Regions from separate parts of the Homo sapiens genome. Here all the other regions are reported to be linked to region 2. The links are microRNA targets in miRTarBase. Many come from high-throughput screens and were not tested one by one. Region 2 holds a microRNA gene; each other region holds the end of a gene's coding sequence.

Evidence for each region. The annotated mature microRNA hsa-miR-5685 reads ACAGCCCAGCAGUUAUCACGGG and lies in region 2 at 1,854-1,875, opposite strand. An mRNA with a match to its seed (bases 2 to 7 or 8) in the 3' UTR can be bound and repressed. Matches are read on the target gene's strand: a 7mer-m8 pairs with bases 2 to 8, a 7mer-A1 pairs with bases 2 to 7 and ends in A, and an 8mer does both.
Region 1: the mRNA of RBL1 is a reported target of hsa-miR-5685. The part of its 3' UTR that is shown has no 7-base or 8-base seed match.
Region 3: the mRNA of POU2F3 is a reported target of hsa-miR-5685. Seed matches in the 3' UTR shown: 7mer-m8 at 1,512-1,518 and 7mer-m8 at 1,187-1,193.

The regions. Positions count from the first base shown.
Region 1 is chr20:36,996,178-36,999,177 of GRCh38, reverse strand. RBL1 (RB transcriptional corepressor like 1) reads left to right here. Exons shown (of 22, transcript NM_002895.5): 22 at 249-2,829. The coding sequence ends at 419. Among named protein-coding and RNA genes, the nearest start is that of SAMHD1, 46 kb to the right of the region's middle.
Region 2 is chr6:53,274,253-53,278,876 of GRCh38, reverse strand. It overlaps MIR5685 (microRNA 5685), which reads right to left and starts at 1,884; the gene lies at 1,806-1,884. ELOVL5 (ELOVL fatty acid elongase 5) reads left to right here. Exons shown (of 8, transcript NM_021814.5): 4 at 2,621-2,698; 5 at 3,616-3,787.
Region 3 is chr11:120,317,937-120,320,936 of GRCh38, reverse strand. POU2F3 (POU class 2 homeobox 3) reads right to left here. Exons shown (of 13, transcript NM_014352.4): 13 at 992-2,584. The coding sequence ends at 2,545. Among named protein-coding and RNA genes, the nearest start is that of TLCD5, 5.9 kb to the left of the region's middle.

The sequences.
Region 1 (3,000 bases), not on the chromosome of region 2:
ATCTTGGCCTCCCAAAGTGCTGGTATTACAGGCCACCACACCTGGCCTTAAATCTAATTTTTAAACCACCTGAAAAGATTAGTTCAAGCCATCCCTTATTAGGTTGTTCTAAGTTTTAAAAAGAGTCCTTATCCCAGTGTTAAGATTTGGATAGAGGATAGAGCACAGGAAAAAACAATTAGCTTGGTTGTTTGCTGCCATTTCCCCTCTCCCTCTTTTACTCACACACGTTCTCTATTTCTGCACAGAGTTTGAAAGATATCAACAACATGATAAGGCAAGGTGAGCAGAGAACCAAGAAGCGAGTAATAGCCATCGATAGTGATGCAGAATCCCCTGCCAAACGCGTCTGTCAAGAAAATGATGACGTTTTACTGAAACGACTACAGGATGTTGTCAGTGAAAGAGCAAATCATTAATGTTGTTCTTGTTTCTATGATAAAAGCACTTTCAGATTGTTCTGCAGAAAGTTGGAGCTCTGTCCTTCAAACCTTTTAGCCCTATAGATGATAAATATCACTGGGTTATAAGAAAAAATTGCACAAAAATTATGTGCTTTTTAAAATATTTATCCAAAATGTAGTTGACAGAGATGTATTTTGAGTTGGATTGGAAAGGAATATTTTAAGTGCCTTTTAAAAATACTAATAGTCCGGCCAGGCGCTGTGGCTCACGCCTGTAATCCCAGGACTTTGGGAGGCCAAGGCGGGCAGATCACCGGAGGTCAGGAGTTCGAGACCAGCCTGACCAACATGGAGAAACCCCATCTCTACTAAAAATACAAAATTAGCCGGGTGTGGTGGCGCATGCCTGTAATCCCAGCTACTTGGGAGGCTGAGGCAGAATTGCTTGAACCCAGGAAGCGGAGGTTGTGGTGAGCCAAGGTTGCGCCACTGCACTCCAGCCTGGGCAACAAGAGTAAAACTCCATCTCAAAAAATATATATATATATATAAATAGGGAATTTTTTTTAATGTTTGCTCCTTGAGTTTTCAAGATGAAATAAGGAGAAACCCCATAACTTTTTAGCTCTCTTTTAAAAATAAATGTCTCCTTCTGTGTTCTGTAATATGAGGATAAATAATCTACTTTTGATAGCATGCTTTGAGATATTTGTATTCTTAATTTAATATTGAAGGAAGGGGTTGGTTCCCATAGTACCTGGCCAGAGGGTTATATACCATCCTGTCTCTGGCCCACTGTGGTAATTCCACATCCAGGTACCACCGCCATTCAGAGTTGTCTCACCCCTTCTCGTGCCTTTTCTCTCCTTGAGCTTTATAAACAGATTTGTACCTGAGCCCCAGTGCTACACTCATCCTTGCTTTCCAGCCCTAAGCCATCTCAGCCTGATGTCACAACCCAATAAATGGGGCACTTTCTTCTTTTGTAAACTATTATCATTTTGGTTTCTGTGACATTAACTTAATTATATATGATCGTATTAACTCATGTAGTTCTCAAAATAGGCAGCTGCTTCTGAAGCCAGTAAAATAAAATTCAGTTAGTTATTAAAAACTAAATTCCTATTAGTAAGGTAACACCATGATTATGTGTGATATACTGTTTTTGAGATCATAGTTATCAGTCATTCTCAATATCTAATTGAGTCCCTAAGAATATTTTAAACCTTTTAAAAATCACATAAATATCATCTCATGCCTCATAATTCTAATATATTTAATACATCAGTAAAATAGCTGCTTATTACTTCCCACACTTTGTTCTCAGTATTGTTAGTGCATCATGAGTTTCCTGCTAGTGTTTGACCACTGGGTACTCCTGAAGATGTTTTTTAGTACTAGGGATGCTTTTCAGTATTAGGGATGCTTTTTTCAGTACTAGGGATGTACTAGGGAGTACTGAGTACTCCTGAAGATGTTTTTCAGTACTAGGGATGCTTTTTTCAGTGTTAGGGATGCTTTTCAGTACTAGGGATGCTTTTTTCAGTGCTAGGGATGCTTTTCAGTACTAGGGATGCTTTCCAAAATATCACCTCTTTAACGTTTACTTTTTCTAGTGTGTGTCTGGAATCCAAAGGACATGAATAAGCCACTCATAATTAATTTTGAGAAGTTTTATCAAATGTTTATGTTTCTAACTGCAAACCTTAATTTTGGAAAGGCACAATGTTTAACTCACCTATGTTTAACCATGGCTAATTTAAAATAGTCTAAGATTTGGCCGTCACTAATTAGTATTCTCAAGAATTTCATTTTTCAATTTTAAGAAGAAAAGGGATTTTGGTCACATTTTGCTTGTAAATGAAAATTACATCCTCATTCTTTGTGTAGTATCTACACATTGTTATAAGCCAAAAAACAAAGTCTGTCTGGAATCTTTGTACATATTTGTATGTTGCTATAATTGTTATTTTTATCTTCATTATTGTGCAAAATATAAATGAGCATTTGTACATTGACTGTATAAGAAACCATGGGCCAGGTCCTGTGGCTCATGCCTATAATCCCAACACTTTGGGAGGCTGAGGCAGGAGGATTGCTTCAGTCCAGGAGTTCAAGACTAACCTGGGCAACATAGCCCTCATCTCTACAAAAAATAAAAAAATTAGTTGGGTGTGATGGCATGTGCCTGTAGTCCCAGCTACTCAGGAGACTGACATGAGAGGATCACTTGAGACTGGGAGATTCTGAGGCTGCAGTGAGCTGTGATTGCACCACTACACTCCATCCTAGGTGAGAGGGCAAGACCCTTTCTCAGAAAAGGAAAAAAAGAAATTCTGGACATGTTTTTATCAGTTTTCAGGACTTGGTATCAATGTACATAGAATGGCTAATAAAAATTGGAATTGAGATTATTGAAAAAAAACTCTTTTCTGTATGACTGGAAGCAGTTGCACAGCCATCTGAAATCTGTCTGTTTTAATATCTATGTCTCTAAAATTCCTTAGAATAACTTAAAAGTTAATGTTCCTGTGGTTTCCAGGGTCTAGGGGGAAAATGAAAAATAACTGCTTAATGGATACAGAGTTTTTTGGGG
Region 2 (4,624 bases):
CAATGATGACTCACTGGAGGGTTTTAAATATGGAAATATGGAATTCAGTGGTTTGAGGGGCACAGCGGCCCCAGTGGAAGTGTGGTAGGTGTGAGTAGCAGTGGAGGGAGTGTTGCATTGAAGCATGACAGAGCTCCTACAGGGAACCTCAACAGGTGGAAGAGGAATGGTGGGCCTAGGTCAAGTGGAGTGGCACCGAGTGAGCAGCTTCTTGTGTGTATACCTGGTTTATGCTTCAGGAGTGAAAAAAGTTCACCACCCAATACTGAGGTTTGAGTTCTTTAACTAAACTCCAAAGACAACAGGTGTTTTATACATGGATTCCCCTGCCCCATTTATGGGTGGGGAGAGGGCAAATGGAACGTTAGGTTAACTAGTTTAAAGAGTCAAGGCAATCCCACCTGGATCCCTTCTTAAAAAGGAAGCCTGTGTCCAAGAGTCCCTTCTGCTGAGTTAACAAGACCCCTTCAACCCGTTCTCATCTTTGGGATTGAGGCGCCTGCAGAATTACAAGAGAGGATTTGTCCTCCTCTTCTCCAGAGAGCTACCTTGATTTTCCCCACCCCTGCCAAGATAGACATTCATGAATGCAGTCATCCACACCTCCACAAGTGCACACACACCAGCCATCCTATTTTAAAACAGACAAAAGCAAAACCAACCCAGGATGTCTCTGGACACCATAAACCAAAATAGTCGCTGGAAAAAACAGTGATGGTAGGTTCCAGATTTAAGATTCATAAAATGGTAACATTTCCAAAAATATCTCTGATGAAGACAGTCATATGTTAGTACGTTTTTAATTTTGCCAAGAGAGGCTGCTGTTTTAAAAAAGAGGATCTTTTACATTGCACGAATTTATCTTCATGAAAACCTTACTGCGTTGTCCTTATTTTTCTTATTCGCGGTTGTCCCACAAACATTTCATCAAGAAGCACCAGTTTCCTTTCTGTACCCTCAAGCCACAGGAGGTAGTTCCTTGGTTCCCTCCTGGGGTAGAAAGAAGGGCAGCAAAAAGAGCACTGTGCTAAGCTGGCCCTTCCCTCTCCACCCCAGGTCTCAAGAGTGCATGCCAGCTTCCTCCCCCGACCTCCAACGCACTTTGGATTCAGACTTTGTGTCTTGCTTCTTAGGACTTCTGATCAGCCTGCATGGATCCTGCTTGACTGGCCATGACTTTAGAGAGTAGTAGAAGACAGAAAAGTTAATACACCTTCTAATGAATTACCATGTGGGTACTGATCTTTCAAAGATAGTATAGAATAGTTTGTTGTGTGGTCTGTTTTTAAAGTCTGTTAACATGAAGCTACAGAAATTTGGAACAGACCCTTTAGAGATAATTTAGTCCAACCTCATCATTTTATAGTAAAAACAACAAAAGCCCACAGGAATTAGCTGGCTTGCCCCAGGTGCTGGGCCTGGCACTCAAGCCTTCCTCCTAATTCCATGGCTCTTCATCATGAACTGATGCTTCTCCCATGCTAAATCCTTGTGCTCTTCTTTGGCCATGAAAAGCCTGTTAACTCTCAGTGCTTTTTTATGTGTAGAAGGTGACAAAGCAGAAGGAAAATGGCAAGAAGAAAGATAACCAAAGAAAAATCAGATAGAAGGCAGGATACCCAGCGTGAGTGCAGCGGCTACACCCATTTTTTGCCATTTATTTCTGATGTCAGACCAGGTGGAAATATCACAAGGTGTCTTCAGATCCTTGTAATCACCTCTTGTTCCCTGGGGGGGAATCTGTGTTGCTCGCCAAGCTAAACTCTTGTGTTCAAGGACAGGGAACACAAGAATTGGGGTGCAGACTCTACATCACAGCCCTGCAGTTATCACGGGCCCATTGAGGGGAGGGGCCCGTGATAACTGCTGGGCTGTGATGTAGAGCCTGTACCCCAGTTCTGGGGTCCTCTCTGTGACAGCATAGTGCCTACTGTGCTGCAAGTGATTCTGAGGCATGGGCACTTGTGAAGCCTTCAGTTTGTGAAGCCTAATTCATGGATCCGGAGGATTGTACATACAACAACAGGAAATAATGAAGATAAAGTTGGACTAAATTATCCCTGAGCCTACAGCAGTGGTTCTCAAAGTATGGTTTCCACATCAGCAGCATCAGTATCACCTGGACCTTGTTAGACATACAAATTCTAGGCCCCCAGACCTACTGGAACAGAAACACCCCCAGGGACCCATGTTTTACTAACTCACCCCTCAGGTAATTCTGGTGCTGCACACTCAAGTTTGAGGAGCACTGGCTTAGGGAAAGCAGCCAGAGGCTTCTGTGGGGCAGAGCAGGGAGCCTGTGATTGGCTTGGTCTGGGCACTTGTGCTAGGACCAAGGGGGTGACGGGCTGAGGGTTCTGCAGAGAAGCAGCGTGGTAAAGGAAGGTCTCTGAGGGCAGCAGCCTGGGAGTGACTTTTAAGCCCACCCCTTAGGAAATTGAGACTCAAGTCATTAAAGCTTTCCTTTTGTTTACACTTGCCTACAATTGTTTTTTCTCAGAGCAAACTTGGCTCAGCACAGCCCAAGGTAAATTATCACAGATTCTGCAACTAATAAAGTTCAATGAGGACTTTACATGGCTCAGATGCTGTTGGTGACTGGCTCTTTCTTCTTTTTTAGTTAGTAACAGGAGTATGGGAAGGCAAATACAACTTCTTCTGTCAGGGCACACGCACCGCAGGAGAATCAGATATGAAGGTACTGTCTCTTTTTCAGAAACTTTATTATTATAAGTGTTGAGTTTTTAAAAATAAATTGTATAAAATACAAAATGGCCCATAACCTCACTGCCCAGGCAATCCCTGTTGATATTTTTAAAAGAATAAAAAAGGCAATATATACACATCAAATTAAAATTTGAATGTGAAAGGTATAAAATAAAACCTAAAGCATCCCCCTCTGTAAAAATAACTCCGGTTAACAATTGGCAGGAAAAATCACATGCAGTCAGTATGTTATATTTACACAATCAGGATCATAAGAGCAATGTCTTAAATTTTTAAAATCATTCATCCAAGTACTTTTTTCCGAGTAGTGGTGTTAAAAATAAAATCTGACTTCCACTCATGAGGTTTGTTTTAAATCACAGGCCAACAGTCGCAGCTCAGCATGGGCAGTCATCTCCTTAGAGCACTTGTTTGACATGTTTAATTGGGCAGAGACCTGACACTGCAGGTTCTGATTCCTTTTCTTCTGTGTCACTTATCAGGTCGGCTGCTCCATGTTAGTCCCTGAAATCAATAGCGTTTTTCAGATGGTTTTCCTTTGCTAATGGCTGTGCAGGCTGCTTCCAGAGGGAATAGGCAGACTTCAAGGTTTTGAACCTTGAGCCTCATGTTTTTGTTAGTCTCAAAGAGTGTCAGGGACCCTTTCAAAAATATTCCCTGTAGTCATTTCAAACCCCTCCAGCTGTCCCAACCCAATCATGTTCTTTGGTTAAAGGTACTTGGAGAGTGACCATAGCTCCCAGCCACTGATGGACATTAAGAGCTCTTGGGGCACTCGGGCTTCTCCGAGTTGACATCAGATTTTTGGATATTAGTGAAACATGTCAGAGGTGATATTCCAGAGAAGCCGTGAGGATAAGCCTTAAATCTTTGACCCTTTCCTCTTAGATTATCCGTGTCCTCTGGTGGTACTACTTCTCCAAACTCATAGAATTTATGGACACTTTCTTCTTCATCCTGCGCAAGAACAACCACCAGATCACGGTCCTGCACGTCTACCACCATGCCTCGATGCTGAACATCTGGTGGTTTGTGATGAACTGGGTCCCCTGCGGCCACTGTAAGTATTAGAGACGGGGACTTGGGGAACAGGTGTGAGCAGGGAGGAGAGTTGAAACTAAGGCTTTCAGAAAAGGTGCTGTTTCTGTAAATGTCTAGGTCAGGCTTTCAGCTTTGTGTTCAAGTTGCTTTTAATGATAGTTTATGTACCTATGCACACAAAACCCTTTTTTAGTTAAGTGAACTTTCTGTGCTGATTGGGTGAGATGAGGGAGATACCACTGGGGACATATTAAGGAATAGGTACAATATTCTCTGACTTAGAGGGCAACTTTCCAGGTTCTTTCTGGTCCTTCTGTATGGTGTGGAAGGTTTGAGACGGGCAGGTGAGGAAAATAGGATCACACTGTTGCATGAGTACCAGGGAGCAAGGCTCATTTTGAAATACAGCTTTAGCTGTCATGCATTAGGAAGTCTCCACATGTTCTAACAACCCTCATATTCCCTGAAGCATGGTGATCAAGGTGTCTTCTATAACGAGCACCAAAACTTGATATAAATTTTCTAAGGTTGTACTTGGTTTTTGGAAAGCTTGTAGTCCAAAGTTTCTTATAATTTTCAGAGATTGCCACCTTCAGATTCAGCCTGGGAGTTTTAGCAAATGTCTCAGTCAAAAGTCCCGTCATCCAAACACTGAAGAATTTAACTGAGAACCTATGGGTCTATTTATGGATATTTTTTTCTCTGGGATAGCACTGCCCTTGATTACCTGAGCCTGCTAAGATTCACAGTGTCATGGAATTCCAGAGCTAGGAAAAAAAAAAAGCTTTCCAAATACAGATCCTTTGGGTTTGGGAGGAAACTAAGACCACAGAAAGGTGGGTAGAGTTGGGGCTTT
Region 3 (3,000 bases), not on the chromosome of region 2:
AAAGCCCCATTCAAACATCAGGGAGCGGTTAACTCTTCATTATTAATATTTAGGTTTCCTGTGTGGATATTATTATTTGCAAGAAGTGTTTAATCCTAATTTTAGTTTTTCCCCATCAGCCATTACATTTTTGAAGGGCCTCTCTTTCCCACAGGTCAGCGTTTATCTCAGTAATGGTAACTATTTATTACTTATTTTATTTTTTGAGACGGAGTCTCGCTCTGTCGCCCAGGCCGGAGTGCAGTGGCACAATCTTGGCTCACTGCAGGCTCCAACGGTAACTATTTAAATTTGTATTAATCTAAGAAAAAACACAAGAATAGGTTTGCTGCCTTTCAACCTCCTAACCAAAAGTCACAATGCATTCTGAAGCCATATATATATATATATATATATATATATATATATATATATACATGAGACAAATATGTATATTTGAGACAGGGTCTCACTCTGTTGTTCAGGCTGGAGTGCAGCGGCATGATCATTGCTCACTGCAGCCTTGACTTCCTGGGCTTAATAGATCCTCCCATCTCAGGCTCTTCAGTAGCTGGGACTACAGGCATACACCACCAAGCCCAGCTAATATGTGATTATTAAATTACCCTCTGCCTTAACTATTTATTGCTTTATGTTGTGAGTAATGAACAACTGCCGTTCAGGGTATCTGAGACATGAGACATTAGCCTCAGTCCCCACCTCTTAAGTTTCAAATGACTTCACCTTAAACATTCACCATCCTCCCACTTACAATATCTCTGGCCTACTCTGCCCTCAAGGTAGTTATGTTACAGAGAGTAACAACTCTGAATTCTTCAGGGCCCTGTAATAACATATGTCATCTTTAGCATCAGTTTGGGGAGTAATACACTTAATGTCCCAATTTGAAACATTTTCTGTCATCCCATTTCATTATATGCACTCACATGCCCCCCACAACAACAAAAAGGCACAGAACAAGAATCTAAACCTCTTCTTATCAACAGTGGGATACTTTTCATAATCACTATACACATTTATTTAGGAACAGTGAGATTCCTTTGAATCTCAACAGTTTCCTAGACATGTAGTCTTTTTTTTTTTAAGTTACCATTTCTGGAATGGCTTCATGTTACATCTCTACAAACTGGCCCACAAAAAAGCAGACTCTAGAGATAATGTTCCCAAAGAAGTCAACAAAGATTCCCAGCCCAGGCCAGGCGCGGTGGCTCACACCTGTAATCCCAGCACTTCGGGACGCTGAGGTGGGTGGATCAGGAGGTCAGGAGTTCAAGACCAGCCTGACCAACATGGTGAAACCCCATCTCTACTAAAAATACAAAAATTAGCTGGGCTAATTTTTGGTGGTGGGCGCCTGTAATCCCGCTACTTGAGAGGCTGAGGCAGGAGAATCGCTTGAACCCAAGTGGCAGAGCATGCAGTGAGCCAAGATCATGCCACTGCACTCCAGCCTGGGCTGGAGCAAGACTGTCTCAAAAAAAAAAAAAAAAAAGAAAAAGAAAAAAAAATCCCAGCCCATGTGGGAACTCTGGAAGGTAGCACAGTATTTCACACTTTGGTATTTCCCCCCCTTTTTTTTAAAGAAGATAAAATATTACAGAGACATTTTCAAAAATCACACCTGAGTTAAACATTTTGCTGGAAAATTCCACATTAAGGAGTTAAGAACATAATGCAAAAAATGGGAAAGGGCTATATACAGGTACTTTGCCACCATCATTGTTGTGTGTTTGCTCTTGTGTTCTTCCTTTTCTGCTGCCAGGAGAAAGGAGAGGGGACAGGATAAAGAGAAACACAGGGAGGAAGGGAAAGAACAAGCACTCCTGAGCCCTAGGCAGACGTGGACAGACAGAAGGGCACCAGCAGGCGTTGCAACATGCCCAGGGCACCCACCAAGGGCAGCTCTTTTACACCTTCTGCAAAAAGGAGGGGACCTGGAGGGCGCAATAATGAATGGATTTGATTGTAGAAAAGGGGGCGAGGTTAAAAAGAAAATGGGGTGAGATGAAGATTCCATCAGAAAACTTAGCTGTACAGAGAAAACATCAAGGCTTTGGTGGAGATATCAGATTCAAATCTTTTCACAGATTTTGGGATCAGTTCAGGGGTTGTGGCCAAGTTCAGAGTCAAAACTATTATCTCCCCTTCTGGTGTTTGGCACCCCAGCCAAATGGCTGTCCCCAGAAGCCCACGGATGAGTTGGAGAATAACAGCAAGAAGTCTTTTCTCTGAAAGACTATTGCCACAGTGAAGCTGGCTAAAATATTTGGAACTAGAAGGCAAGGGCATAGGCAAGGAAGGTGAAAATGGTAAGCTCCTAGGAGGGGCTGTGTATTTCAAGAGCATTAGGAGTCTGCACTTGGTTCAATCACAGTTTGGATCTCCGGAGGCCCTTGCTCTTGAAGAAGACAAGAGTCTGGGTTCATTGATAGTGGAGATTTTCTTCCACTCTTCTGAAGGCAATCTGTCTGTATATAGAAGGCATGATTCCCTTCCTTCCAGGGGGAATACAGGGCCAGCTGGAGTAGGAGAAACTTTTTGGTCTCAGTGGAGGTAGGTGGAATGATTCCATCGGTACCAAGATCTGGAAGGAAGAAAGAAGTCAATCCTAAAGCTAATAATGTGATGGCGTAAGATGGGAATGGGGAGTGACTGCTAGCAGGTACAGGGGCTTTTGCAGGTAGGAGTAATAAAAACATCCTGGAATTAGATAACGCTGATGGTTGCACAACCTTGTGAATATACTAAAAACCACTGAACTGCACACTTTAAAACGGTGAATTTTATGGTATATGAATTATACCTCGAAACAATTTTTTAAAGCTGGTAATGTATATTATATGGTCCTCTTTCTCTCTCTCAGTAGGGGTAGGTGAGGAGCGCCAACGTTTCGGGCTATGCAACAATTGGCCAATAAGAACTGGCTGCCTTGCTGAACCGCCTGGATTTGGACAGCTGGGTTCATCTTTTCTGACGAACTCAGGTCTGTAACCTACACAT